Linked DNA regions of Homo sapiens: all the other regions are reported to be linked to region 1. The links are microRNA targets in miRTarBase. Many come from high-throughput screens and were not tested one by one. Region 1 holds a microRNA gene; each other region holds the end of a gene's coding sequence.
The links. Region 1 holds the annotated microRNA hsa-miR-892c-5p (UAUUCAGAAAGGUGCCAGUCA, at 2,938-2,958, shown strand). A microRNA usually pairs through its seed, bases 2 to 8, with sites in the 3' UTR of a target mRNA and lowers its output. Matches are read on the target gene's strand: a 7mer-m8 pairs with bases 2 to 8, a 7mer-A1 pairs with bases 2 to 7 and ends in A, and an 8mer does both.

Region 2: the mRNA of LHX6 is a reported target of hsa-miR-892c-5p. Seed matches in the 3' UTR shown: 7mer-m8 at 5,221-5,227, 8mer at 5,213-5,220 and 7mer-m8 at 4,782-4,788.
Region 3: the mRNA of PRAMEF11 is a reported target of hsa-miR-892c-5p. Seed matches in the 3' UTR shown: 7mer-m8 at 7,632-7,638.
Region 4: miRTarBase lists WDFY3 as a target of hsa-miR-892c-5p. Seed matches in the 3' UTR shown: 7mer-m8 at 3,569-3,575.

The regions. Positions count from the first base shown.
Region 1 is chrX:145,987,683-145,995,753 of GRCh38, reverse strand. MIR892C (microRNA 892c) reads left to right here and starts at 2,928; the gene lies at 2,928-3,004. It overlaps MIR890 (microRNA 890), which reads left to right and starts at 1,403; the gene lies at 1,403-1,479. MIR888 (microRNA 888) reads left to right here and starts at 894; the gene lies at 894-970.
Region 2 is chr9:122,199,124-122,207,194 of GRCh38, forward strand. LHX6 (LIM homeobox 6) reads right to left here. Exons shown (of 10, transcript NM_014368.5): 10 at 3,459-5,657. The coding sequence ends at 5,637. It overlaps MORN5 (MORN repeat containing 5), which reads left to right. Exons shown (of 5, transcript NM_198469.4): 5 at 762-960. The coding sequence ends at 808. Among named protein-coding and RNA genes, the nearest start is that of LHX6, 26 kb to the right of the region's middle. RefSeq lists a silencer at 736-948.
Region 3 is chr1:12,817,075-12,825,145 of GRCh38, forward strand. PRAMEF11 (PRAME family member 11) reads right to left here. Exons shown (of 4, transcript NM_001146344.3): 4 at 7,531-8,071. The coding sequence ends at 7,868. LINC01784 (long intergenic non-protein coding RNA 1784) reads right to left here and starts at 6,149. Exons shown (of 2, transcript NR_146629.1): 1 at 5,962-6,149; 2 at 5,612-5,865.
Region 4 is chr4:84,669,252-84,673,251 of GRCh38, reverse strand. It overlaps WDFY3 (WD repeat and FYVE domain containing 3), which reads left to right. Exons shown (of 68, transcript NM_014991.6): 68 at 261-3,655. The coding sequence ends at 384. Among named protein-coding and RNA genes, the nearest start is that of CDS1, 88 kb to the right of the region's middle.

The DNA.
Region 1 (8,071 bases):
TGGTCACGTGGACCTCAGGCATCCTCAAGATGATTTCGATGGTGCACACCAAACAATATGAGCACTTATGTGTTAAGGAAGCAAAAGATAAAAGATCAATATATGTTTTGTAGAAGAGGAGAAATCTGGAAAAAGTGTGTTCACTACTGGTCTTGGTAATTATCTGGCTAAACAAAGCAGATGAGAGGGTACTCACTGAAGGAAGCATGCAAGTTGAAGGGCAATGAGCTGGGTATTCTTTGGGACTTATGAATAAGTTAAGTTCGGGGTTCAGGCGCCATGCTGTGTTGAGGGGAGTGGTGAAAGCTGTAGGGTATAACTGTGCAAGATAGGGCAGTACCTCCACAATCAGCCATGCTGTGTGCAGTGCCCTGCCCAGAAATGTGTCAGTCGCCCAGATTATATGTCACTAGTTCCTTTCCAGGTAGAGTAAGGCACACCAAGTATAAGTTTGTAGTGGCCTTTGGACCCATGATAGTGTAGAGTTGCAAGAGCCTTCAGGTACCTTCCCTGAGACCAGCAGATCTTAGTTGGCCATGTGGACCTCAGGCATCCTCAAGATAAGTTAAGTGGCTTGTCCCTAACAACATGAGCACCTACAGGTTATAGATCAGAAAGGCAAGATGAAGATAATTCCTACTAGAAAAATAGAAAATGGGAACAATCTTGCTCTCTTCTGGTCCTGGCAATCATCCAGATAAACATAGAGTAGGTGAGAGATTCCTCACTTAGGGAGGCATATACCTTGGAGGGCAGTGGGCTAGACATGATCCAGGACTGATGAATAAATAAGTTCAGGGTTCAGACATCATGCTGTGCTCAGAGGAGTGATGGAAGCTACAGGTGGAGAACACGCAAGATGCGACAGCACCTCCACAATTAGCCATGTTGTGGGCAGTGCTCTACTCAAAAAGCTGTCAGTCACTTAGATTACATGTGACTGACACCTCTTTGGGTGAAGGAAGGCTCACCAAGTACACTTTTGTGGTGGTCCTCAGACTGGTGAGGGGGTAGACCTGCAAGCAACTTGAGCTGCCTTCATTGATCCCAGGAGAACCTTGGAAACCACCTGGAATTCAGGCATCGTCAAGATGATCATTTCTAACAACGTGAGCACCTACAAATTAGAGAAGGCAATGACAGAAAAGATAGTTACTTCCTAAAAGGAGAAAACAGGAACAATCTTTTCTTGTCTTGGCCATCATCCAGGTGAACATAAATCAGATAAGAAGGTCGTCACTGAGGCAGGCATGCCAAGTTGGAGGGCAGTGGGCTGGAAATTCTCTAGGAATTAAGATTAAGTTCAGGGTTCAGGCATCCTGCTGTGTTGAGTGGGGTGATGAAAGCTGCAGTGCACGATGGTGGATGATGGGGCAGCACCTCTACAATCAGACATGCTGTGGGAAGTGCCCTACTTGGAAAGGCATCAGTTGCTTAGATTACATGTAACTATTCCCTTTCTGAGTAGAGTAAGTCTTACCAAGTACAAGTTCATGGTGACCTTCGGACAGGTGATGCAGTGGAGTTGCTGGAGGCTTTAGTTGTCTTCAGTAAGGCCGGGAGATCCTAGCTGGCCACCTGAACCTTAGGTGTTCTCAAGGTGATTTCAATGATGCATTTCTAACAATGGAAATACCTATTTTTCAGAGAATAGAAAGATAGAAGAAATGAAGATACTTCCTAATAGAAGAACAGAAAACGAGCTTGTTCTCTCATGGTCCTGGCAACCATCTGGGCAAATATGGAGCAGTGAGCATGTCTCATTGAGTGAGACATGCGTCATGGAGGGCAGCAGACTGGACATTCTCCTGGACGGGGGTTGACCTTGCAAGATGGGCCAGCACCTCCGCTATCAGACATGCTGTGTGCAGTGTCCTACTTAGAAATGTGCCAGTTTCCTAGATTATACATCACTGGTTTCTTCCTTGGTAGTGTAAGGCTCAACAAGTATAAGTTTGTAGTGGCCTTTGGACCCATGATAGGGTGGAGTTTCAAGAGCCTTGAGGTACCTTTCCTGATACCAGGAGACCTTAGTTGGCCATGTGGACCTCAGGCATCGTCGAGATATTCTAAATCGTCTGTCCCTAACAACATGAACACATGCAGGTTATAGATGAGAAAGACAAGATGAAGATAATTCCTACTAGAAAAATAGAATGAGAACAATCTTGCTTTCTCCTGGTCTTGGCGATCACCCAGGTAAACATAGAGCAGGTGAGGGGTTCCTCATTTAGGGAGGCATGTACATTGGAGGGCAGTGGGTTAGACATGATCCAGGACTGTTGAATAAATAAATTCAGGGTTCAGGCATCATGCTGTGCTCAGGAGTGATGGAAGCTACAGGGGGAGAACATGCAAGATGGGACAGCACCCCCACAATTAGCCATGTTGTGGGCAGTGCCCTACTCCAAAAGGGGTCAGTCACTTAGATTAGATGTTTCCAGCTCCTTTCTGGGTAGAGCAAGATTCTCCAGGTACAATTTTGTGATGGCGTTCAGATTGGTGAGGAGACAGACCTGCAAGCACCTTCAACTGCCTTCATTGATCCCAGGAGAGATTTGGAAGCCACCTGGAACTCAGGGATCCTCAAGATGATTTTAATGATCCATTTCTAACAATGTGAGCACCTACAGGTTAGATAAGGTAATAATAGAAGAGATAAAGATACTTCCTAAAAGAAGAAGAGAGAACGGGAACAAGATTTTTTTTCTTCTCGTCTTGGCCATCATCCAGGGAAACATAAATCAAGTGAGAAGGTCTTCATTGAGGCAGGCATGCCAAGTTGGAGGGCAGTGGGCTGGAACTTCTCTAGGACTTAATAAATGTGTTCAGGGCTCAGGCAGCCTGCTGTGTTGAGGGGAGTGATGAAACCTGCAGTGCGTGATGGTGGGTGATGGGGCAGCACCTCCACTATCAGTCGTGCTGTGGGCAGTGCCCTATTCAGAAAGGTGCCAGTCACTTAGATTACATGTCACTGTTTCCTTTCTGAGTGGAGTAGGGCTTACCAAGTACAAGTGTGTGGTGGTCTTCAGACAGGCGATGAGTTGGAGTTGCTGGAGCCCTAAGTTGTCTTCAATGATGCCAGGAGATCCTAGCTGGCCACCTGAACCTCAGACATCCTCTAGATGATTTCAGTGGTTCATTCCTAATAATGAGAATACCTATATGATAGAGAAGAGAAGGATAGAAGACGTGAAGATACTTCCTAATAGAAGAACAGAAAAACAAGCTTGTTCTCTCGTGGTCCTGGCAACCATCTGGGTAAACATGAAGCCAAGTGAGAGTGCTCTTGCTGAGGGAAACATACATGATGGAGGGCAGTGGGCTGGACATTCTCTAGGATGGGGATTCACATTGCACGATGGAGTAGCCCCTCCCCATTCGTCCATAATATGTTCCAGAAAGGTGCCAGTCACTTAGATTATATGTAACTAGTTCCTCTCTGAGTGGACTAAGGCTTACCAAGTACAAGCATATAGTTGCCTGTAGACCCCTGATGTGGAGTTCCAAGGGCCTTGAGCTGCCTTCCCTGATGCCAGGAGATCCTATTTGGCCACATGGACCTCAGGCATCCTCAAGATAATTCTACTGGTGCATTCCTAATGATGTAGACTCCATCATGTTAAAGAAGAAAGTGATAGAAGAGATGAAGATACTTCCTAGTTGAAGAATAGAAAACGGGAACAAGCTTGTTTTCTCCTGGTCTGGGCAATCATCCAGGTAAACATAGAGCAGGTGAGAGGGCACTGAGGGAGACATGCAAGTTGGGGGCTTGTGGGCTGGGCATTATTTTGAACTGATGAATAAATAAGTTCAGGATTCAGGCATCATACCGTGCTCAGAGGAGTGATGAAAGCTGCAGGGTATGAAAATGCAAGATGGGGCAGCACTTCCCCTTTCGACCATGCTGTGTTCAGGGCTATTCCCAGAAAGGTGTCTGATATGGTTTGGCTGTGTCCCCACCCAAATCTCACCTTGAATCATAGTTCCCATAATCCCCATGTGTCATGGGAGGGACCCAGTGGGAGGTAATTGAATCATGGGGGCGGTTACTCCCATGCTGCTGATCTCATGATAGTGAGTTCTCACAAGATCTGATGGTTTTATAAGGGGCTTTCACCCGCTTTGCTCAACACTTCTCATTCCTGCCGCCATGTAAAGAAGGACGTGTTTGCTTCCCCTTCTACCGTAATTGCAAGTTTCCTGAGGTTTCCCCAGCCATGCTGAACTGTGAGTCAATTAAACCTCTTTTTTCAATAGAAATTACCCAGTCTTTGGTATGTCTTTATTAGCAGCATGACAATTGACTAATAGAGTGCCAGTAACTTAGATTACATGTAATTGGTTTTTTCTCTGGGTGGAATAAGAGTCACGAAGTACAAGTTTGTGGTGGCCCTCAGACTGGTGAGGGTATAGAGTTACAGGCACCTTGAGATGTCCTCATTGATCTCAGGAGATCCTTGGTGGTTAGCTAGAACTCAGTCATCCTCAAAATAAGTTTCATGGTCGTTTGCTACAATGTGAACACCTACGGGATACAGAAGATAAAGATATTTCCCAAAAGAAGAAGCGAAATCAGGAACAAACTTGTTCTCTCCTGGTCCTGGAAATCATCCAGATAAACATAGAGCAAGTGAGAGGGTCCTCAGTGAGGCATACATGCAAGTTGGAGGGTAGTGGGCTTGGGCATTCTCTAGGACTAATGAATAAATAAGTTCAGGGTTCAGGCATCATGCTATGCTCGGAGGAGTGATGAAAGCTACAGGGAGAGAACATGCAAGATGGGGCAGCATCTCCACAATTAGCCATGCTGTGGGAAGTTCCCTACTCAGAAATGTGCCAGTCACTTAGATTACATGTCACTGGGTCCTTTCTGGGTAGAGTAAGTACAAGTTTGTGATGGCCTTCAGACTGGTGATGGAAGTGGAACTGTAATCACTCTTGAATTGCCTTTCTTAGACCCAGCAGAGTCCTGAGAGCCATCTGGACCTAAGGTGTCCTCAAGACCTTTAGACTCTAAGGGTAGCCAGTGGACCACTGGGGGTTAATCTCAACTGAAAGAAAATAATTTCCCTAAATGATCTTCTTCCTCTTCTAATAATAGAATTAGATGACCAATCCAGGTTTGGGGTTTTGCAGGAAAAATTTCCAGCTTTCCTTGTAGATATCTGGAAAAGATATGGTAAGTTTTTGCCACACAGCTTTATTTGTCATGTGGCAAGAATATATAGAGATTCATGTTCAACTGTAATTTCCAGGATGTGGTGATTCAATTTTGTTTCATATACTTATTGAATATGTATTATCTTTATTTTTTAATTTGCTCGTTCTGTATGACATTTTATGTATATCCCTGCTTAGATAGACATGTTTGTTTTCATTCAATTCAAATCTTGAAGTTCTAAGAAGACACACTGGGGAATGCAGAGGTTAATGGCTTCTAATAGTTCAGCTGCAATTTCAAATGATACTGCAGGGTTTCATCAGCTCATTCAGTTGCTTTGAACTCACCATCTCTTTGTCATACATGATGATACTCTTTGAATAATTGCTTTTTATGGTGACCGTACGGTTTGGTTTCTAGTATTCCAGAAATTCATTATCTCCTTTTATAAGGTCACTCTGTTGAATTTCACTAGTTGGGGAATGCATGTGATGTTGTGAATTCAAAGTTGTAAAATAAGCAACATTCTCTTTGCATCATGTGGAACAAGGTTGCTTCAAGTTGATATGTTTGAGTCTCCTAATCACCTAGCTCCCAGACTCCCTAGCGTGAATGAAATTAATTTTCACTTAAATGCAGGGCTTCATTTGCTTGTGAGGAATTTGCCTATACAGCGATGGATGTAAGTGGTATGTGAATATAATCACTAGTGTGTCTGTCAGAATCTAGGTTACAAAAAAAATTAACATATATCTCTTTGCCTATATTAATAACAAATCTATCATATATAGATAGTAACAATTTTATAAGACCTGGTATATCGAAGATGAATTTAATCCTTGAATATGATATAAATACCCAGACTGGTAGATAAGTTAACATTAAGTCATTATTAATGCTTAATAATTACAGTTTTACTCAATTAAAACTGATAATTTTCATACAGGTGGGAAGCATTGGTGAGAGTGTGGTTAAGAGACTTAACTGTGACCTCAGAGAAAGAATTTGGGATATTTTTTAAATTAGTTTTTAATTATAAATTTAGTTTTTCCTCACAATAACCGGTGAATCCAAGAGATATATACAGACAAATTTTTATATTCCATATATATTTTTAACAGCATTCACTCAATGGTACGTTAATATTTAAATCCAGTTTCTCATTTTAAACAAACATGTATGTGAAGCTTAATTGTATGTGTCAACTTGGCTAAGCTATGATACCCAGTTTTGATCAAACACCAGTCATGTTGTTGTTGTGAAGGTAAATTTTACGTGAGATTAATATTTAAATAAGTAGACTTCACATAAAGCAGATTATCATTTATAATATGGATGGGCCTCATCCAGTGAGTTGAAGGCCTTAAGAGGAAAAGACTGAGGTCCCCAAAGGAAGAAGGAATTCTACTACCAGGCTGCCTTTTAGACTTGAGTTGCCAAATCAAGCCTTCTATGATCTTCAGCCTGCCAACCTTTTCTGTAGAGATTGAACTTGCTTGCTCCAACAACTCTGTGAGCCAGTTCCTTAGAATAAATCCCTTGTCTCTCTGAGTCTCTCTCTCTTTCTCTCCCCTGCCCTTTCCCTCGCCTCTTTCCCTCTCTTTCTTTCCGCCTTCTCTCTTCATACACGCACCACTGATTGGTTCTGTTTTTCTGAAACCATAGTGTAATATCTACACTAAGTCACTATTAGAGAAGCTGATACGTGTAATATGCCTTCATTGTCCAACAAATGGGAACATTCACTGAGTTCTGCATAATATGAAAGATGTATACATATATATCATATAACAAATGTGAAAACATTGACATCTTTCCTCATGAAATGCTTTTTCTAGTTTAAGTTTCAAAATTTCACTACTTAGTGGGGTTTAATTTAGGATTAGTGATATAAACTAGGGATAGATATTTTTAACTATTTATGTGTTTTCCCATATATCATGGCAACACATAATTATTTCCTAGCAGACTTTTTGAGTTTTTTGGGGAAGTAAAGCCGTGACTTAATCCATTCTTGCTACTATAAACAAATACCATACACCAGGAAGTTTATAAACAGATATTTATTTCTTACAGTTCTGGAGGCCGGGAAGTCCAAGATCAAGACAACAGCAGATTCATTGTCTGTCAAGAGCCCATCTTCTTGCTGTAACTTCACATGGCAGAAGGGACAAGGCTGCTCTCTGGGGCTTCTTTTATAAGGGCACTAATCCTATTCATGCAGGGTCCACCTTTATGACCTAATAATTTGCCTAATAACTCCACCTCTTAATGCCATCACATTGGTTCTTAGGTTTCAACACACGAATTGTACGTAAAACATAAAATTCAGACCATAGCACTCCACGTGTTAATTTTCTAACTTTGAATGATACTTCTTATTCTTCCTTGTTGAGAATTTTCCTTGATAATCTATTTAATTTACATTTAGGCATTAAAAATATCATTGCTTTGTCGGATTTCCCTAAGTGTAACATTTATCTTTCTGACTTTGCTTTTGCAATGAGGAAATGTGTGCACACTGAAAATCTTTACAGAATCGAACTCAGTCATCTTTTGACGTGGGAGCATGACATAGTTTTTGTTTACTTCAGGAAAGTCATGCTATGTTCTTTGTAGATATGTAGAATAGATGTTATAAATTTATTCCTAGCATCTCCTTTTCTTTTTATGTTAATTAAATTCACATCTCCATCATCTTTGCTGATTATTGCAGGTAGACAGGTAACATGCCTAGTTTTGCCAACTCACTTCCCTCTCAGCTTTCATTATTTTTTAGCTCATTTAGTTGGATGATTGCATTCAACGGTTTAATGAATTAGAATTCAATAAACTTTCTGAACCCATTGACCTGTTAGGAACTGCTTTATCATGGAATAGCAAGTTAGGTGGATAGTACCTGAGTTC
Region 2 (8,071 bases), not on the chromosome of region 1:
GTGATTCACTCAAGTCTCTTTATTTGAGGTTTAAAAAACAGCACAGGCTTTATAGCTGGACAATCCTAGGTTCTAGTCTGAGCTCTCCCACATACTGACCCTGTGGCTGTGGACAAGTGCCTCGGCCTCTGTGAGCCTCTGTTTGTTCATCTGTAAAACGGTGGTGAAGGCTTGCCCATTGCGTGGTTGGTCACGAAGATTAAACTAAGGAGACACTGCGTTTAGGGCTTTCAGGCACAGCGGCGAGCTCCTGCCCCTCTCCGTTCCCCACTGAAAGGCCTGGAGTAAACAAGAGGGTGTTAGTCCCCTGGAGAAACCATGGGTTCTTGAAAGGGTCAAGAATGGAGAGCCTAGAAAGGAAATGAAGATCTCAGGACTCTGTCTCCTAGCACCACCGGCAAGGCCTAGACCCACTGTCCTGGGGCTGTCGTGCGTGGGCTGTCAGACCAGGCAAGTGCCCGACTGTGAAGCAGCTGCTCTCTGCCTGTCAGGATGAGTCCAGCTTAGGGTGGCCAGACTCCTCATGCTTGCCTCCGCCAGCAGCACCCACAGTTAGAAACCCTTCTGTGTTCAATTTCCCCAAGACCAGCCACTCCGAGGAATTCAGTGTAAATGAAAGGTCTGTTCCTCCCCACACAAAACTACACAGACTGGCCATCGACGGACCATCCCAGTCCCAACGCCCCACCTGGGGAACCCCCCAGGCCAGGAAAGGTCCCAGCGAGCACCAAGCATGACCAGCTCTTCCTCTTTCCTTGCAGATGATGACGAGCATGAGTGGATCACCCGTACCTGTCGAAAGGGCTAGGATGAGATCGTGGGTCACAGGCCCGAGCCGTGAACTCTGTGGCTGCCTCCACCAGAGGTTTCCATCTGCCCTACTAGCATTGGCTGCCCTGGGGGACGGGCTGTAGTTCTAGAACCTGATTTTAACTCAGGAATAAAGACTTTCTGCGGTCAGTGGCCCCAGGTGTATTTTCCTTAAAAGATTGTTCCTCAGTGGGCATCATTTAACCTGGACAAAATTGTGAGCTATAGATATTCCCAGGCCCCACCCTAGACCTCCCAATCAGAATCTCTGGGAATGGGGCCTAGTAATTTGCATTCCCAGCATTTCTCATGCATCTGAACGTTTGAGAACCATCTCTTTATAATAATAGATAGATGTAATTGAGCACTAACCGGCGCAGGTAGTGCGTGTGCATTATCTCTGCTCCTCACAACAGCCTTGCAAGGGGAAGGCTTTTGCAGATGGGGAATCTGAGGTTCAGAGAGACAGAGTGACTTGCTTGGTCTCAGAGGGCAGTAGGACCTGATCACTGTGCCCAGTCCTGCAGCAGTCATGGGTTCTTAGTTTCTGTTTCTGGTTGGGCCAGTGAAGCCCCTTCCTCATCCCTCTTTTCTGCTTATCACTAGAGACAGAAACTAAAAACCATGGCTTCAGGCTGCTGAAAGCCTAAAACAAAACAGAACACAAAAACAACAACAACAAAATAAGGTGGGTTGGACAAGCTTGTTAGGCCCAAGAATGATTACTCAGGCCTGTCTTTCCCTCTTGCCAGCTCCCCCATTTGAACCTCACATCCTAAGCACAGAATCAGCATGGTGCCATAGAAAGAATGTGGCTTTGGAGGCTGGGTGTGATGGCTCACGCCTATAATCCCAGCACTTTGGGAGGCCGAGGCCGGCAGATCACATGAGGCCAGGAGTTCGAGACCAGCCTGGCCGACATGGTGAAACCCCATCTCTACTAAAAATACAAAAATTAGCCGGGCATGGTGGCATGCGTCTGTATTCCCAGCTACTTGGGAGGCAGAGGCATGAGAATTGCTTGAACATGGGAGGTGGAGGTTGCAGTGAGCCAAGATTTCACCACTGTACTCCAGCCTGGGTGACAGAGTGAAACTCTGTCTAAAAAAAAAAAAGAATGTGGCTTTGGCATCATATAAAAAATGGTTATAATAATGCTTTAAAACAATACAGTAGCCGTGTGGTTAAATGAGATAATACAAGTAGGGGACCTGGCGCATAGTAGGTATTCAATATGTGTTTGCTTTAAAGAACAACTTGTTAGTGGTGCATATAATCATTCCTCAAAATCATCCCAGAGGTCACATTTGTCAGCTAAAAATCAGAAGAGGAAGCGACAACATGTTCCAGGGCCACATATGGGCCATATGCATCCTGGATCTTTGTCTAACTGTTCCTCCTTAGAGGTTGCTAGATCCTGTTACCCCCTATGCTCTGTCCCCTGGCTCACCAGGGCTGCCCAGTGGAGGCAGAACAGTGAGTCAGGCTTGGAAGGCAGGAGAGGAAATTGGATCTCAAACTAGGGACCCAGAGGCGTCATGCTGGGGCAGAGCCAGGAGTCAGCGGGAAGGGAGGCCTGGGCTCACTCTCAGCTGCGCTAGGGAGCAGACTTGGGAGGATCACCTCTCCCCAAGACGCCAGTCACCTTGGTAGATAGGGTTGTGCTCCACCGGTGGTTTCCAAACTGTATTTTGAAAACAGAAGGTACATTCATGTAAAGAAACACACAACTAAACTCATATATTTTCAAAGATACACATATATCTAAACACTTGAAAATGGATTGGAAGAGCAGATGTATGAGGAGCAGAAATGGAATCAGGGATGGGAGATTTAAAAACTAGTAGAATAGAGAGAGGGGCCCTGCAGTCAGTGACTCATGTGCACCATGAGCTGAGGTTTCTGAGCAACTCATTTCTGTGCAGGGCCACAGCAGGCCAGGGAAGCCTCTGCATTCTGCAGGGCAGCTGTGCTCTCCACACCAGGAGCTTTGGCTTGAGCAAATGACTCTGCTGCTGAAAGAAATTTGACAACCACCAAAAAGATGCGCTCTCTCACTCCTCAGGTTATGAGGTGGTGGCTCTGGAGCCTGACAAAACCACTATAAGACCCAGTCTTGTGCAGAACCTGGGGCCCTGCTGCCCGTTCCATATTCCCTTAACTTCACCTTATTAAATTCTTCCCCATCTTCCAAACACGCTCCTCTGCACCTCCCTCCCTGCCCCACCCTCTTGCTTACCTATTCTGTGACCTTCTCATCTGATAGGATCCAGCTTTAACACCCACCCCCTTGGCTCCCACAGTATTTGCCAGACTGAGAGCTCCTCCAGGACAAGGTCTGGCTGGGAGCCTTTTCTCAGTGTGCAGAGCCAGCACAGGGCCCAGCAGAGAGTGTATGTTCAGAGACTGGAACAGAGGGCATCAAGCAGCCTGATTTCCTCCAAAGCTTAGATAAGAAGCAGGTGTGACTGAGTACTTACAGAAGAAACCCATCGTCAGGCCTCCACAATCCATTGTTTACTAACTGGGAAATGGTACCCGTTTCCCAGGAAGGAGGATTACACTGTCCAGCAGCCCACATATTCTGGGAGCCAGGGACCTAAGCCCTTCACCAGAGAGCAGGAAAGAAATGGAATCCCATCATGTTCTGGATTTCAGTGCCAGCACTTCTACTTGCATTAACTTTATTACACAAATAAGACATTTACAAAGCACGACATGAAAGGTATGTAACAAAACAGACATTGGTTTTACAAAAAAAGTGCTTACAATTTTTTTTCCGTGTGTGTGTTTTCCCCTTTTTTTGTATTTAAATAAATAGTCTTGATGGCCTGTACGTTCCCAGGCTGCTCTTAACAGGGTAGTGGAGACATGTTTGAACTGTAACATGCTACGGCCACATAATCCACGCAAGGAATAGACCCTGAGGAGAGGCTCAAGGCAGAGTGTGTTGGGTGACCCTGGGTAGGGCTTGGTTGGCCACTTACCACATGGTTGCCACTGGGGCCTTGATGATCAGGAGCAAAAATCAAAGGAAAGATTTGAGCTCCAAGGCCAGGAATTGGGCCCTGGTTGCTCCTGTTAATGTCAGCGCCTAGCACAGGGCTGGGCACAAGTTACCACTGACTGAGTGCTGAGCTGAGCTGTACTCACCACGTTCTGAGTGGTGCCTGCTCTTTGCCCTCAGTCAGCTGTCACTGTCTTTGGAAGGGAGAGGAAGCAGGTTCCCTTCTTAGGCTGCACCTGTGCCTACCCTGCCTGTAGATCCCAGAGCAAGAATGACCTATAGGCTTTCATGTTAAGTGCCAACGTCAAGCATTTGAACTCTGAAACCTTATCCAGACTCAGTGAAATAGAGCTGCCATTGATTAGCAATGTCTGCCATGGGTAAAAACAGAGACAATGGCTGCGTATGTACCATGAACTTGCTTTCCCTGTCTTAGAGTCTCCTTCCAAAAGCAACATAACAGGTTAACCACAGCAGGAAGGCGGACTTGGGCTAAAACATGCTGATTAGCAACCTCTAGTGGAAAATGCATCAGGACACCAGGTAATTCTAGAATTACAGGATAAGCTTGGGACAAATGGGCATCCCCTGAAAACATAAATCATGGTCGTGTGTAGCCTGAGCCCTTTTGTTTGGGGTGGAAGAGTTGTAGCAGGATGGATGTTACGCAGCTGTGTCTGACCTCTGTTCTCAGGGGTGGGTGGGGCTGGCTCCAGGAAGTATTGATTGGGAAGCTCAGAGGCACCAGTTGGAATCCTGAGCTTGGCACACTCACCTAGGCAATGGGCACCCTCTCTCTACTTAGAGATGGATCCAGGGTTAACATTCTGACTGCCATTTCACTGGGCTCTGTTCCCTCTCCCCTATAAGGGATTCCCCTTCCATTGAGAAGACCTGGCCCAAGCACCACTATGAGAGGTCAACAAGTGGCCAACAGGGGTCCCCAACTCTAACCTGTCCAAACATTCAGAAGAGTCATGGCACAGATCGAATACCATCGCTGCTATGTTTCTTACATATATGCTGGATAATTAGGTGGGGGTAGGGTCTCTCCCTGACCCCAGAGTTTTCTCTTTCCTCTCCTTAAAATGGCTAGTGCCTCTTCTGGTCCAATATGTCACCGCCCTCTCCTTGATTTCCAAACCAATGGGGGTCTTTCTTCTCCCCATTCCCTGTCTATCCCCGCTGCCTCCTAGTCTGGGCAGGCCTCCATCTCTGCCCTATTAGGCCTCTCAGGGTTGGTCACTGTCTCTTCTCTTTCTGAATTAACTTGACATAACCAGACAGATGGAAATGATAAAATTAGAACATAGCTTTCCTTTGGGGACATCCCACAAACACTGTAGAGTTTTCCAGACAAAAGCAACAGAGTGGATAACATTGGGGGTTGTCAGCTATTCAGAATTCAGAGATGGTTCCAAGGAAGTAGTAAATAAAGGCCAATGTGGGGGAAAAAAACCTGTAAATGAGAAGGCCGTTGGCATCGCACAATTCAATTCCGCCTTTTGTTATTGTAATCAGCTGAAGTTGAAGAGGACTCCTGTTTAAATGGGAAAAACAGGCTGTTTCCACCCTGATTCCAGATTTCAGGGAGTTCTGCCTTCCAAGAGGAGGACTCTGTGGTGCTCCTGGTGGGTTCTGGTTCTCAGCAGGAGAGGGAAAGGCCAGGCCTCGGGAACCGACCTGGTGGTGGGCAGGATGGCGGACGGGGGTGGATGCGGAGGTGGGTGGACTCCTGGCCGCAGCTTGGACACTGGATCTCAGCGGCTGAGGGGCAGCTGTGGGGCGCCCACGGGCAGATGCGGAAGTGCCGGCAGCGTTAGTACTGAAAAAGGATGACCTGCAAGAGGAGGGCATGGGAGGTGGCTGAGCTGGGGGCCTGCCCCACCCTGCTGCCCCCCAGAGAACCTCAAAGGCACAGAGAAGAAGGGTGGACTCAGGGCCCAGATCTGAGTTTAAATCCTGGCTCTGTCAACTGACTTGCTGTGGGACCTTGGGCAACTCACTGCACCTCTCTGAGCCTGTTTCCTCATCTTTAAAACAAGGATGACAAAATCTCTCTCTGAGAATCAGAGAGATTCAATGAGATACAACAGCAGCAGCAAAAGCCTTCTGGGCATTTCACCCTGCACCTTCTGTGCCTGATTTCACGGAAGCCGCACCATAGCCCCGTGAGGGAGTTCCAACGTTCTGTTTTACAAGGAGGGCACTCAGGCTCAAAGAGGTGGAAGCGAGTGAGCTCGTGGGCACACAGCGAGGAGGAGGACCTGGCACTGGAGGCCAGGCCTGGCTCACAGCAAGCTCTCCCTACCAAAGCACATTGCCTCTACCTTTCCAAGGTCACCGTGACCATAGTGGCTGACTGCTTATTACCCACAGGGCCACGGGCTAAGCACTTCACATGCGCTTAATCTTCACATGCACGAAGCCTAGAAGTGCGTGGCTCAGACACACTGGGTGCCCGATACACAGTGGGAGATCAGGACTGTCTGTCCCTTTCCCCCTCCCACTCCCACCTCTAGCACTTGGTTGACATCTCACTGCTGCTGACACAGCCAGTTCCCTGAAGTTCAGGTCAAGGATCACTGGCTGGCTGGTCAATGGCAATGTGTCATTTCACAGTAAAGTGTGAGGGGCATCTGGTGGGCATGACTACATGGCTGTTCCCTTTTCTGATCAGGAATGTTACTTGCCCAGAACTGGTTATCACAAGGAGGTGATGGAGGAAAGCAATGATGATGATCACCATAATAGTGATCATGATCATAACCAACACCTGGGGGCATTTTCTGTGCACCAGGCTCTGTGCTGGGCTCCTTACACACATTATGCATTTATTCTCTGCAGCAACCCTACGGAGTGGGAACTATTATTATCCCCAGTTTGCAGATGTAGAAACCGCAGCTCAGAGAAACTAATTGCATTCCCAGATCTCACAGGGGAGGTGGCAGAGCTGGGATTCCGAGCTGGCCTAACTCCAGAGTGGCCAGGGTGGGCATTCCTTCCCCACCCTGGCCACTGCTCCACTTTGGCCTCCAGAATGCCTGGCTTTTAGCCCTTATTAGGAAAAGCTCTCTCAAGAGTGGCGACCCTGGTAGGACCCTTCCCCTCCATGGGTCTCAGTCTCCTCCACTGATCAATGACAGCTTAGCCCTGATTTCTAAGAACTTTCCAAGTGTTGGATTTGTGGGATCAGGGGACACAACCAGGAAGAAATGTGGCTCTGGAACCTCACAGGTGTGTGTGGCCAAATGACGATGCGGTGGAGGCAGGGGATGCTCCCCTGAGTGCTCAGAGCACTGTTCTCCTGGCCAGGCCAGTGCTGGTCTAGATGAGTGGGTTCAGGGGCCAGCCCCATGGGGACACTGAGTCTCCTCACAGCTAGGCAGGCTCAGGCCTGGAAGGACTTGGAAGAAAGCCCAGACAATCCTGTGCTGGCCACACACATACCACACCCTGCCGCCCACCAAGCCCCAGGAATTTGAGAGTTATGGACAAGAAAAGTCCCTAGGAGCTGGCGGAAAGGCCTGACAGTGAGAGGACAGAAGGTCATGAAGGAGGGAGAGACACTTTAATGCAGACTTTCTGGGTGCAAAGTTGGGGACACAGCCCAGCAAGGGAAAACTCTGGCTCAGCAGCCAAATCCAGAAGCCAGAAACTGTCTATAGCCAAATCTGACAGCCCCCAGCATGGCTCATCCCCCAGGCTGAATGAGACAGAACCACAAGCTTAGCTGAGCAACCAGGAGGCAAAGGCTCCTCTCCAAGCACTGAGCCCAGCCCTCTGTACCTCCAGGGCCCATCCCTGCCCTCCACATAATGTCCAAGACCCTCTTTCCATGATCCTTTGTTCTGTGGCCCCTGTCGGCTCTCCCCACTTCCCTGGACCTCAGCCACACTGAACGTCCCCCAGGGTCCCCTCCGGCCCAAGCTCCTCCATGCCTCTGGGCCTTTGCACATGCGGTTCTCTTGATGTGGAACACCCTTCTTCTTGTCCCCTGTCTCTCCCCTAGAGCTCACTGCCTCCTCTTCTGGGTCCTCTAAGGTCAAGTTTCTCGCCTACTCCAGCTGCCCATTCCCCTGCAATGTAACTGCCCACACCCTGTGCTAAGCCACAAGCTCCCTGAGGGCAGGGATCATGTCAGCTCACTTCTGCAGTCCCAGAGCCAGGTCTAATAGGATGAATCCCCTCCCACAGGAAGGGACAGCTCTGAGGCAGGTGGCTCTAGGATCCCGGCCAGTTCTGCCCATGCTC
Region 3 (8,071 bases), not on the chromosome of region 1:
GAGAAGAATGTATATTCTGTTGATTTTGGATTGTGAGTTCTGTAGATGTCTATTAGGTCCGCTTGGCGCAGAGCTGAGTTCAATTCTTGTATATCCTTGTTAACTTTCTGTCTCATTGATGTGTCTAAAGTTGACAGTGGGGTGTTGAAGTCTCCCATTATTATTGTGTGGGAGTCTAAGTCTCTTTGTAGGTCTCTAAGGACTTGCTTTATGAATCTGGGTGCTCCTGTATTGGGTGCATCTATATTTAGGATAGTTAGCTCTTCTTGTTGAATGGATCCCTTTACCATGATGTAATGGCCTTCTTTGTCTCTTTTGATCTTTGTTGGTTTAAAGTCTGTTTTATCCAAGACTAGGATTGCAACTCCTGCCTTTTTGTGTTTTCCATTTGCTTGGTAGATCTTCCTCCATCCCTTTATTTTGAGCCTATGTGTGTCTCTGCACGTGAGATGGGTTTCCTGAATACAGCACACTGATGGGTCTTGACTCTTTATCCAATTTGCCAGTCTGTGTCTTTTAATTGGAGCATTTAGCCCATTTACATTTTAGGGTAATATTGTTATGTGTGAATTTGATCCTGTCATTATGATGTTAGCTGGTTATTTTGCTCGTTAGTTGATGCAGTTTCTTCCTAGCCTTGATGGTCTTTACAATTTGGCATGTTTTTGAAGTGGCTTGTACCAGTTGTTCCTTTCCGTGTTTAGCACTTCCTTCAGGAGCTCTTGTGGGGCAGGCCTGGTGGTGACAAAATCTCTCAGCATTTGCTTGTCTGTAAGGAAATTTATTTCTCCTTCACTTATGAAGCTTAGTTTGGTTGGATATGAAATTCTGGGTTGAAAATTCTTTTCTTTAAGAATGTTGAATATTGGCCCCCACTCTCTTCTGGCTTGTAAAGTTTCTGCCAAGAGATCCGCTGTTAGTCTGATGGGGTTCCCTTTGTGGGTAACCCGACCTTTCTCCCTGGCTGCCCTTAACATTTTTTCCTTCATTTCAACTTTGGTGAATCTGACAATTATGTTTCTTGGAGTTGCTTTTCTCAAGGAGTATCTTTGTGGCATTCTCTGTATTTCCTGAATTTGAATGTTGGCCTGCCTTGCTAGATTGGGAAAGTTCTGCTGGATAATATCCTGAAGAGTGTTTTCCAGCTTGGTTCCATTCTCCCCATCACTTTCAGGTACACCAGTCAGATATAGATTTGGTCTTTTCACATAGTCCCATATTTCTTGGAGGCTTTGTTCATTTCCTTTTATTCTTTTTTCTCTGAACTTCTCTTCTCACTTCATTTCATTCATTTGATCTTCCATCACTAATACCCTTTCTTCTAGTTGATTGAATCAGCTACTGAGGCTTGTACATTTGTCACGTAGTTCTCATGCCATGGTTTTCAACTCCATCAGGTCCTTCAAGGAATTCTCTGCATTGGTTATTTTAGTTAGCCATTCTTCTAATTTTTTTTTCAATGTTTTTGACTTCTTTGCCATGGGTTCGAACTTCCTCCTTTAGCTCAGAGTAGTTTGATCATCTGAAGCCTTCTTCTCTCAACTCATCAAAGTCCTTCTCCATCCAGCTTTGTTCCATTGCTGGTGAGGAGCTGCATTCCTTTGGAGGAGGAGAGGCACTCTGATTTTTAGAGTTTCCCATTTTTCTGCTCTGTTTTTTCCCCATCTTTGTGGTTTTATCTACCTTTGGTCTTTGATGATGCTGATGTACAGATGGGGTTTTGGTGTGGATGTCCTTTCTGTTTGTTAGTTTTCCTTCTAACAGTCAGGACCCTCAGCTGCAAGTCTGTTGGAGTTTGCTGGAGGTCCACTCCAGAACCTGTTTGCCTGGGTATCAGCAGAAGAGGCTGCAGAACAGCGAATATTGGTGAACAGCAAATATTGCTGCCTGATCGTTCCTCTGGAAATTTTGTCTCAGAGGAGTACCTGGCCATGTGAGGTGTCAGTCTGCCTCTACTGGGGTGTGCCTCCCAGTTAGGCTACTCAGGGGTCAGGGACCCACTTGAGGAGGCAATCTGTCCGTTCTCAGATCTCCAGCTGCATGCTGGGAGAACCACTACTCTCTTCAAAGCTGTCAGACAGACAGGGACATTTAAGTCTGCAGAGGATTCTGCTGCCTTTTGTTTGGCAATGCCCGGCCCCCAGAAGTGGAGTCTACAGAGGCAGGCAGGCCTCCTTGAGCTGCAGTGGGCTCCACCCAGTTCCAGCCACCTGGCTGCTTTGTCTACGTACTCAAGCCTCGGCAATGGCAGGCGCCCCTCCCCCAGCCTTGCTGCCGCCTTGCAGTTTGATCTCAGACTGCTCTGCTAGCAATGAGTGAGGCTCCATGGGCATAGGACCCTCTGAGCCAGGCATGGGATAAAATCTCCTGGTGTGCCATTTGCTAAGACCATTGGAAAAGTGCAGTATTAGGGTGGGAGTGACCTGAATTTCCAGGTGCCGTCTGTCACCCCTTTCTTTGACTAAGAAAGGGAATTCCCTGACCCCTTGCCCTTCCCAGGAGAGGCAATGCCTTGCCCTGCTTTGGCTCACGCTCGATGCACTGCACCCACTGTCCTGCACCCACTTTCTGACACTCTCCATTGAGTTGAACCTGGTACCTCAGTTGGAAATGCAGAAATCACCCGTCTTCTGCACTGTTCATGCTGGGAGCTGTAGACTGGAGCTGTTCCTATTCGGCCATCTTGGCTCAACCCCCTAGTTAATTTTTGTGTCTTTAATAGAGAAAGGGTTTCATCATATTGGCCAGAGTCGTCTCAAACTCCTGACTGAAGTGATCCACCCACCTTAGTCTCTGAAAGTGCTGGGATTACAGATGTGAGCCACTGTGCCTTGTCAATTGCTGGACTTTCATGATACACATGGAGTATCCACAGTATCACAAGGGCCATTTTTTCCATAATCCAATTTATTTATATTATTGGTAGTGAGCTAATGTTGATGTCGCCAAGGTAGCAATTTAGTGACTATACCCATGATAAACGTTTCCATGCATCACGTGGTCAACAGCATTTGCTACCAAGTGCCACGTTCCATGCTCAGCAGTAGGAACATAGGATGATTGAGACAAAGTTCCTGACCTTTAGCAGCAATATCGAACAAGTGAGATTGTCAAGAAAGAAGAAATCATTGTAAAACATACCATACCCCTACAATTCCGTAATCATGCTCCTGGATATTTAATGAAATGAGTAAACCCACAGCTGGATGTTTATAGTAGCTTATTCATAATCACTAAAACCTGGAAGCTAGCAAGTTGGCCTTCAGTCAGTGACTGGATAAGCAAACTGATCCATCCAGTCAGTGAACTATTATGAAGCCTTAAAAAGACATGAAAGATTCTTAAATGCACGTTATTGTACAAGTGAAAGAAGGCAATGTGAAAAGACTCATCCTGTTAGACATTTGCCTTTTTCTATGGAGATAGTAGAAAGCCCAGTGGTTGTGAGGGGTTGGGAGTACAATGGGATGAATGGGAAGAGGACAGAGGACTTTTAGGGGAACAAAACTAGTCTCCATGATGCTCTAATGGTGGATATGTGTCATTATCCCTTTGTTAAAATCCATAGAATGTACAAAACCAGCAATGATCCCCCATGTGAACTATGGACATTGGGTGATAATGATGTGTCCCTGTGGCTCATTGATTGTGACGAATGCTCTGTGCTGGTGTGGGTGCTGATCCTGTGGGGGTGCTGTGTATTGAAGGGGGAAGAAGGTAGATGAGAACTCTGCAGTTTCTGCTTAGTTTTTCTGTGAATCTAAAGCTGCTATAAAGAAAAAAATAGGCTGGGCGTGGTGGCTCACGTCTATAGTCGTAGCATTTTGGGAAGCTGAGGTGGGTGGATCACCTGAGGTCAGGGGTTCGAGATCAGCCTGACTAAAATGACAAACCCTGTCTCTATTAAAAAATAATAATAATTATAATACAAAAATTATCCAGGTGTGGTGGTGCATGCCTGTAATCCCAGCTACTCTGGAGGCTGACACAGGAGAATTGCTCGAACCCTGGAGGCAGAGGTTGCAGTGAACTGAGATCGTACCACTGCACTCCAGCCTGGATGACAGAATGAGACTCCATCTCCAAAATAAATAAATAAATAAACTCAAGGCTGGGTGCGGTGGCTCATGCCTATAAGGGCTCACTCCCAGCAATTTAGGAGGCCGAGGCAGGTGGATCGCTTGAGCCCAGAATTTCAAGACCAGTCTGGGCAACATGGTGAAACCTGGCAAAAATAAGCCAGGCATGATGGTGCATGCCTGTCGTTCCAGCTACCAGGGGGACTGAGGCAGGGAGATCACCTGAGCCTAGGAGGTCAAGGCTGCAGTGAGCCGTGATCATGCCACTGCACTCCAATCTGGACGACAGAGTGAGACCTTGTCTCAAAATAAAATAAAATGAAATAAACTCAAGATTTTTAAAAACTGTAATGTTTCCTTTCAAAGATAAAATTGTATTGTTCTAAATATATTTTAAAGAAGAAATGATTATTGTTCAGTGTCTTTAAAATTAGTTTTCAAAATCTCATTTGTTTTGACATTTCAAACCAAGTTAAGTATTCTTTTTCTCACCCTCCTTGGGACGGAGTCTTCCTCTTTCACCCAGGCTGGAGTGCAGTGGTGCATTCTCGGCTCACTGCAACCTTTGCCTCCCAGGTTCAAGCGATTCTCTTGCCTCAGCCTCCTGACTATCTGGGATTACAGGCACCTGTCACCACGCCAGGCTAATTTTTTGTATTTTTCGTAGAGACCGGGTTTCATCATGTTGGACAGGCTGGTCTGGAACTCCTGACCTCGTGATCTACCCACCTCGGCCTCCCAAAGTGCCAGGAATACAGGCATGAACCACCACACCTGGCCATTAACCATTCTTAAAATATCACGTTGCATTCTTTCAAAGTTCTAATCTTTCATATACATAAATTACAACACAAATAGTTATACTCTAATAGTATTCACACTATAGTAAATTTTTTTTTCATGCTCTGTCGCCCAGGCTAGAGAGCAGTGGCGCGATCTCGTCTCATTGCAATCTTCTCCTCCCGGGTTCAAGTGATTGTCCTGCCTCAGCCTCCTGAATACCTAGGATTACAGGCGAATGCCACCACTCCCAGCAAATTTTGTGTATTTTTAGTAGAGACGGGGTTTCACCATGTTAGCAAGGCTGGTCTCAACATCCCGAGGCTGCCTCGGCCTCCCAAAGTGCTGGGATTAGAGGTGTGAGACACCATGCCCAGCCATAATAATAAATGTTATTTTATCTTTTTTTTGAGATGGAGTTTTGCTACTGTTGCCCAGGCTGGAGTGCAATGGCTCAGTCTGAGCTCACCGCAACCTCCACCTCCCAGGTTCAAACGATTCTCCCGCCTCAGCCTATCGAGTAGCTGCAATTACAGACGTGTGCCACCACGCCTGGCTATTTTTTGTATTTTAAGTAGAGAAGGGGTTTCTTCATGTTGCTCAGGCTGGTCTCAAACTCCCGACCTCAGGTGATCCACCTGCCTCAGCCTCCCAAAGTGCTGGAATTACAGGCATGAGCCACTGCACCTGGCTCATAATAGTACATTTTTAAAAACACCATAAAATATAATCCTTGCAACACTCAATTATACCATCTGGTCCGATCTATCAGCAGATGGCACCCGAGACATACGGATTGGAAATTTTGATCTTATTATGAATGAATCCAGTCCAGAAATGCCCACCCTGCCCCCTGCTGGCTCCTGGGGCTCTGCTCTTTGGGGGAATCATGATGAAATTGTGGCAGAGAGTAGAAGTTGAGCCCCATTGCATGCCCTGAGTTCTTGTTGCCTCTCTATTATCAGGAAAAGGAGGTGAGATTGAAAGATGAAAAATGCTGGGACTTCTGCTGAGAAGAGAAAAAAGAACAAGATGTATTGATCTTACTGTATGCCAGACCCCATGCCAAGCCCTAAACATGAACCATCTCATTGGATCCTACCAAGGTCCCATAAGCTGTTGGATATCATCATCCTCATTTTACAGGAAGCTGAGGCTCTAGGCTAACATCCCTGACAGCAACACCAGCCCCTGAGTACACAGCAGGATCCTTCACTTGGGTGCCCACTATGCAGGCTTCCTCACCACAGGGAAGGTCACTCATCACCCACAGGCACTTGATCGTTATCCACCCTTTGATGATGTCAGATTCCAGAACATGCTGCACTAGTCACTTCCTTCATAGGGAGAGAGGGAAGGTGTTATGAGAAAATCTCTCATCAATCTGACCTAGCTCCCCAAAAAGATGTAACTTTTAAAATGTCAGATGGAAATATTTAAAAAGTGTTACATGCCTGTATAGTTTTAGTATTTTACTTAAAGGGAATGTGGCTGTCTTTACTGGCTACAACAAGTTTAATTCAAGAAGGGCTGCTGGTCATCAGGGGAACAAGCAAGGGTTGGTGCTGCCCAGAGTCTCCAGCTAATACACAATATGGACATCCCCTTCCAGGGCAGCGGGAAGAGACTGGCTCCTTGTGCAGTGAAGCTGACATCCACCAACTAAGGCTTCTGGAAGCATGTGGAGACTCACAGGGAGTGGGCAGGGTCTCAGCATCTGGATAGCGGTGAAAGACGCTGAGAAGAAGGTGCTTTCCGTGTGGATTGGCTCACTGTTCTTGCCCAGCAATGTTCCAGGCCTTTGGTGTCCACCTAGTGTGTATTAACCCACTGAACAGCCACAGAAACTAACAAGGAGTTAACAGACATCTAAAGAAGTGAAGAACTGGAGGAGGCCAAGCCAAGCGTGGTGGTCCACGCCTATACTCCCTGCATTTTGGGAGGCCAAGGCAGGAGAATCACAAGCTCAGGAGTTCCAGATCAGCCTGGGGAAGACAGCGAGGCCTTGTTTCTACTAAAAAAAAGTATCCAGGTGTGGTGGCTCACACAGCTGTAGTCCTAGCTACTCAGGAGGCTGAGGTGGGAAGATCGCTTGAACCCAGGAAATTGAGGCTGCAATGAGGTATGATTGTGCCACTGCACTGTAGCCTGAGTGACAGGAGACCTTTAAAAAACAAAAACAAAAACAAAAACAAAAGCCTGACACAGTGGCTCACACCTGTAACCCCAGCACTTTGGTAGGCCTACTTGCGTGAATCACCCAAAGTCAGGAGTTTGAGACCAGCCTGGCCAACATAGTGAGGAAACCCTGTCTCTACTAAACATACACAAATTAGCTGGGCATGGTGGTGCATGCTTGTAATCCCAGCTACTTGGGAGGCTGAGGCAGGAGAATCATTTAAACCCCAGGTGGAGGTTGCAGTCAGCTGAGATGGCACCATTGCACTCTAAACTCCAGCCTGGGCGACAAGAGTGAAACTCTGTCTCAAATAAAAGAATGGGAGGAAACTGGTTACAATAACCAAATTTCATTTAAATGCCTTGATTTTCTTGGGCTGCATCTTATTGATTGGACAACTCAGTCAGTGCCTTTTGTTTTTTCCATCAATAACTGAAGATTCCTGAGGCTTAAACTGGAAAACAGGTTACTTAATAATAGAGGGCACCAGACAGATTCTGCTCAGTTTTCCTTTATTTCTGATTGTTTCTTTACAACCATCCATGCAAGAGTAACTCCCTCATGTATTCTCAAGCCTGAATTCCACTCTAGACATTCAGATTCCCATTTTCGACTCTACAGGATACAGGTTCCCAAAGTCCCATTGAATCCATGGCAACATTTCCCCCAAGTCCTGCCCCTGCTTGATCAGCTTTCCTTTCCCACTTTCAGAGCCCATGTGTGAAACGATGGGTTCTGTGCTCCCTTTAGGATGTACCTAAGACCTAGGTTTTAGTTTCCAAGTGTCCAGAAGAAAGCGTTTGACATACCCATCCAAATAGGCAGGCATTCAACAGCAGTATTGATCTGCCTCCAGGTCATAAAATGACCTGTCGCCATGGTCAGGGCAGTTGTCAGTACAGAACAAGATCCTCTTGGGGTGCCTTAAGTGCCTCACTTTCTTCATCAGCTCAGCCCTAATTTGAGCAAATCTGCTCCAGCAGAGAGTACCATCAGCACCATAACTTTCCTGCGGGGCAGGATACAGCTCCAG
Region 4 (4,000 bases), not on the chromosome of region 1:
ATCTTAACTCTGTTTTTTTGTTTTCGTTTTTTTAATTCTTGTCAGTCAAAGAAATAGCTTCCCTGGTTTAATACTGCTTTTCTTCATAGACTGAAACAAATAATACAGCTTTCCTTTTAGTCCTTGTTCAGCCACACAACACAAACCAGTATGGCCTTTGGCATTTTACTGCAAGCTTTCCATTCGATTATTAATGTTTCCGGTGCCCATGATCAAGCATGGAGAAGACCTATAATTAATTGACTTTTCCTTTCCTTTAGGTGCAGTCGCTTTCAATCTGAAATCAAACGCTTGAAAATCTCATCCCCGGTGCGTGTTTGTCAGAACTGTTATTATAACTTACAGCATGAGAGAGGTTCAGAAGATGGGCCTCGAAATTGTTGAAGATTCAACAAGCTGAGTGGAGACCATGGTCTGTAGACCCCTTCCCGATTCTCCTGTCCCAGCTTGGAAGGCATTGAAAACAGTCTCCGTTTACACATCTCTTCATACCACGTGTTTGAAGTGTTAAAATTCAAAGGGATCATTGAATAAAACGGGTGTAGAGTACAGGAATGGGGCAGACGCGATTCAGGTGAACAGCACAAGAAGAATATGAGGTGGTTCCTAGGAGCAACACTTTCGACCTCCAGTTCTCCCTGATGACAGTAGCTGTCTCCAAGAGAAAAATCCTCACTTATTAACTCTCTTTTCTTGCATCTCATTTTTATAGAGCTACTCATCCTTATTTGGAAAAACCAACAACAAAAAAGGCTTTTAGAAAATGGTTGTAAATCTGACTTCTTTGCAAGTAACTATGTATATTGTAAATAGATATAAAAGGCCTTTTTTCTAAATAAGGACTTAACTGCCTGTAACATGAAACTTCAAACTAAACCACTAACTCAATGAACTACTTATGGTTTGTCTGACATCCCTCACTTACCAATTAATTATAAATATGTTTTTTTAAATCCCCAAAGACATTATCTGTGGTCTTTTTTTCCTTTCAAGCTCAGCCTGTGTGCCTGATGTCATTTCTTTCAAGTTGCCCACAGTATCTCCACTTAAACTAGGCTAGTAACCAAAATAATGTGGACCTTCTTTAGGAAACAGTGTGGGAGAATAGGAGTCCAGCCGTAAGATAAACTGGAAATATTTGGGCGTCTTGTACCTGGCTACGCACCACCTCAGTGTTGTTCCTACATAAACAGGGCCCCTTTTAAACTTGTATGTGGACTGCTGTTTGGTCAAAGAATACCTTCTTAGCATTGCAGAAAGGTGGTCAGATGACCAGTGTAGTGCAGGAAACAGCCCTGTCTCAACTAATGGAAATATATTTGCATGTAACCCAAAATTAGCTTATCTTGCATAGAACATAATAAGTATGTGTCTTTGGTGACACTAATGTTCTACTATAGCTTATTTTCAAACAAGGGGTAAAAAAAGGAAAGAAAGAAGTGTACAGAATTAACATATAAACTTTGTTGTAAAACTGAATCATGTCAGAACTGCTTAAAATTAACCTTTACCATTTAATGTCATCTACCTGAAAACAGTGAGATTTATACTGTATCAATGTCTATTTTTTTGTTTTTGCTATGAATATAATTACAGTATTTTAATATTTAGTTATTTAATTTGTTCTACTAGTTGGATACAGAACACACAAATCCAGGGGGATTAAAGCTGGAAGGGGCTAAGAGATTAGTTTACAGAGAAAAGGCTTGGTGGTGGGATTTTTTTAAATGTGTGTTATGTACATATATATATATATATAATATATATTAAAAATGAAACAATTAATCTAGATTTTAACATTTTCAGAAACTTAGTGATAACATTATGAACAATTCTAAAAGCCCTGTGATTTGAAAAATATAGAATCATTAATGGCCCAAGATAGGCCTTCACACCTTCACAGGTGCGAAAGGAAAGGCCTTCACACCCTCACAGAGGCATCATGCAAAGGACAGCGGCTTTGGCTTTTCCAATTTTCCATCTTTAGGCCCTGGTGAGAGGCACACTTATGCACTAAAATGCACATATATGCACATGCATTCAAAAATAGGCATTTGGTACAATGGTGATCTTGTACCTGATGGGCTGAAACCAGCTTAAGAACAAATTTGTTCTTCCTGATATGATAACTAGGTCTCCAAGAGAAAATAGAAAGGCTGCTTTAGTGCCTTACGCTTACTAAATTTAAATCTTTATTTACCTGGGTTTGAGCCTACAGTCTATTTATGATTACATATCAAAATTGATTAAAACACTTCCATTTCTAAAAGTTCAAATATACTTGTTAATAAAAGGATTATCGGCATTAATACTTTAATTTAAAGAAAAGTTGTGTTCTGTTTTCCTTTCTGTGTCTTACTCCCCCCACACTCTCCCTCCCCCATCACCATCTTCAATTCTAATAAATAATGCTGATGTTCAACAGTTGCAGAAATTGTGCTATTATGTAACTGTGGGCCTTGCCCCTGTCTGGCCCTCTAGATGATTTGTAGCAGTGTTATTCTACACTTTTTAAAAGAAGCGTCCTCCTTTTGTCCATGAATCATGTTTACCCCATACCCAGTGGCAGAGGTGTTCTTTAAAGACTTGAATATATGAATGTGTGTGTGTAGTTACTTAAAGGTTATTCCTCTTTGTAATAGGAAACTATATGGGATGAACACTTTTAAACTTTCCGACACAACTTCCATTACTAACTTTCTAACAGAACTTCCATAACTAGAAGGTGGAAACCAAAACCCTCATGGTAGTATTTCCTCTGGCAGCTGGTGCTGTGGGCAACTGTTTTGTTCAATCGGGTTTCTTTTCTTTTTGCCTCTAATGCAGAAATCAACAGAATCACTCACACATACAAGTACACTCACATACATAAACTAATTATTTCTCTGGATATCTTTCTGTGTTCCATGTAAATTTATTTACCAACATCTATTGTCAACATGTACATCTACCTTAGTATGGTCTGCATTCTTTTTCTGAGAGTACCTCATAGGGCTCCTGCCTGATCTTTGTAGTTTGTTCATTCATCCATCCACCTGTTCATTTGTTCATCCATGTATTCTAACATTTCTATGTAGTGTGCAACTCTAATGTCATGCTTTTGAAGAAGAGAATAGCTGCCCATAGCAGCCATCCGTCTGGATAATAGCAAAACACTCTAGATAAGTTATTTTGCACTTTCTTATGTATAAAGTTGGTAGAAACTTATTTTTGCTTTGTATCATTTAAATACATTTTGTTTTGGTAAATGAACTGTGTATAAAATATTTATGCCGTTAAAACTGTTTTTAGAAAGTATTTTTAATTTCAGCAAGTTTGGTTACTTGTTGCATGACTCTTAACACAGCTGACTTTTTGTGTCAGTGCAATGTATATTTTTTGTCCTGTTATTAACTTGTAAGCCCTAGTAATGGCCAATTATTTGTACAGCAACAGAAGTAAATTGAAGATACTGGCTAAGACTGGATTGATTGTGGACTTTTATACTATATTGCAGAAACCAATATCTGTTTCTTGGTGGTTATGTAAAAGACCTGAAGAATTACTATCTAGTGTGCAGTCTGTGATATCTGAATGTTCATTGTATATTTGTCTCTGATGCAAAAAGGTAGAGTAACACAATTACAATACATGATTAAATGCAATAGTCCAGGTACTTAAGTAATTTTTTTTTCATTTCAAATAAATACCTATTTACCACCAAAAGAAAGAAAAAGAAAAGTTGTTAAGTCAGTTATTCAGGGAAGGAAAAACAGAGATCTAATAACTCCCTAACTTTATGTAGTTCTTTTCTAGTTGTAAATACTTTCAGAAGCACCTGCATAAGATTGCAGAAGTATTGGCTGTTAAGGTTCCAGTTCCAGTTCTAGTTTGACTCATCCTTAAAAATCAGGCTTTCTGCAGTCTGAGCTTCTCAATTGTGCTGGATTCCCAGGGCTAATGAGTGTATGTGGATGGCAGTAAGGAGAAGCAAGCCCCTTCTGGGAGACGTGACCCTCAA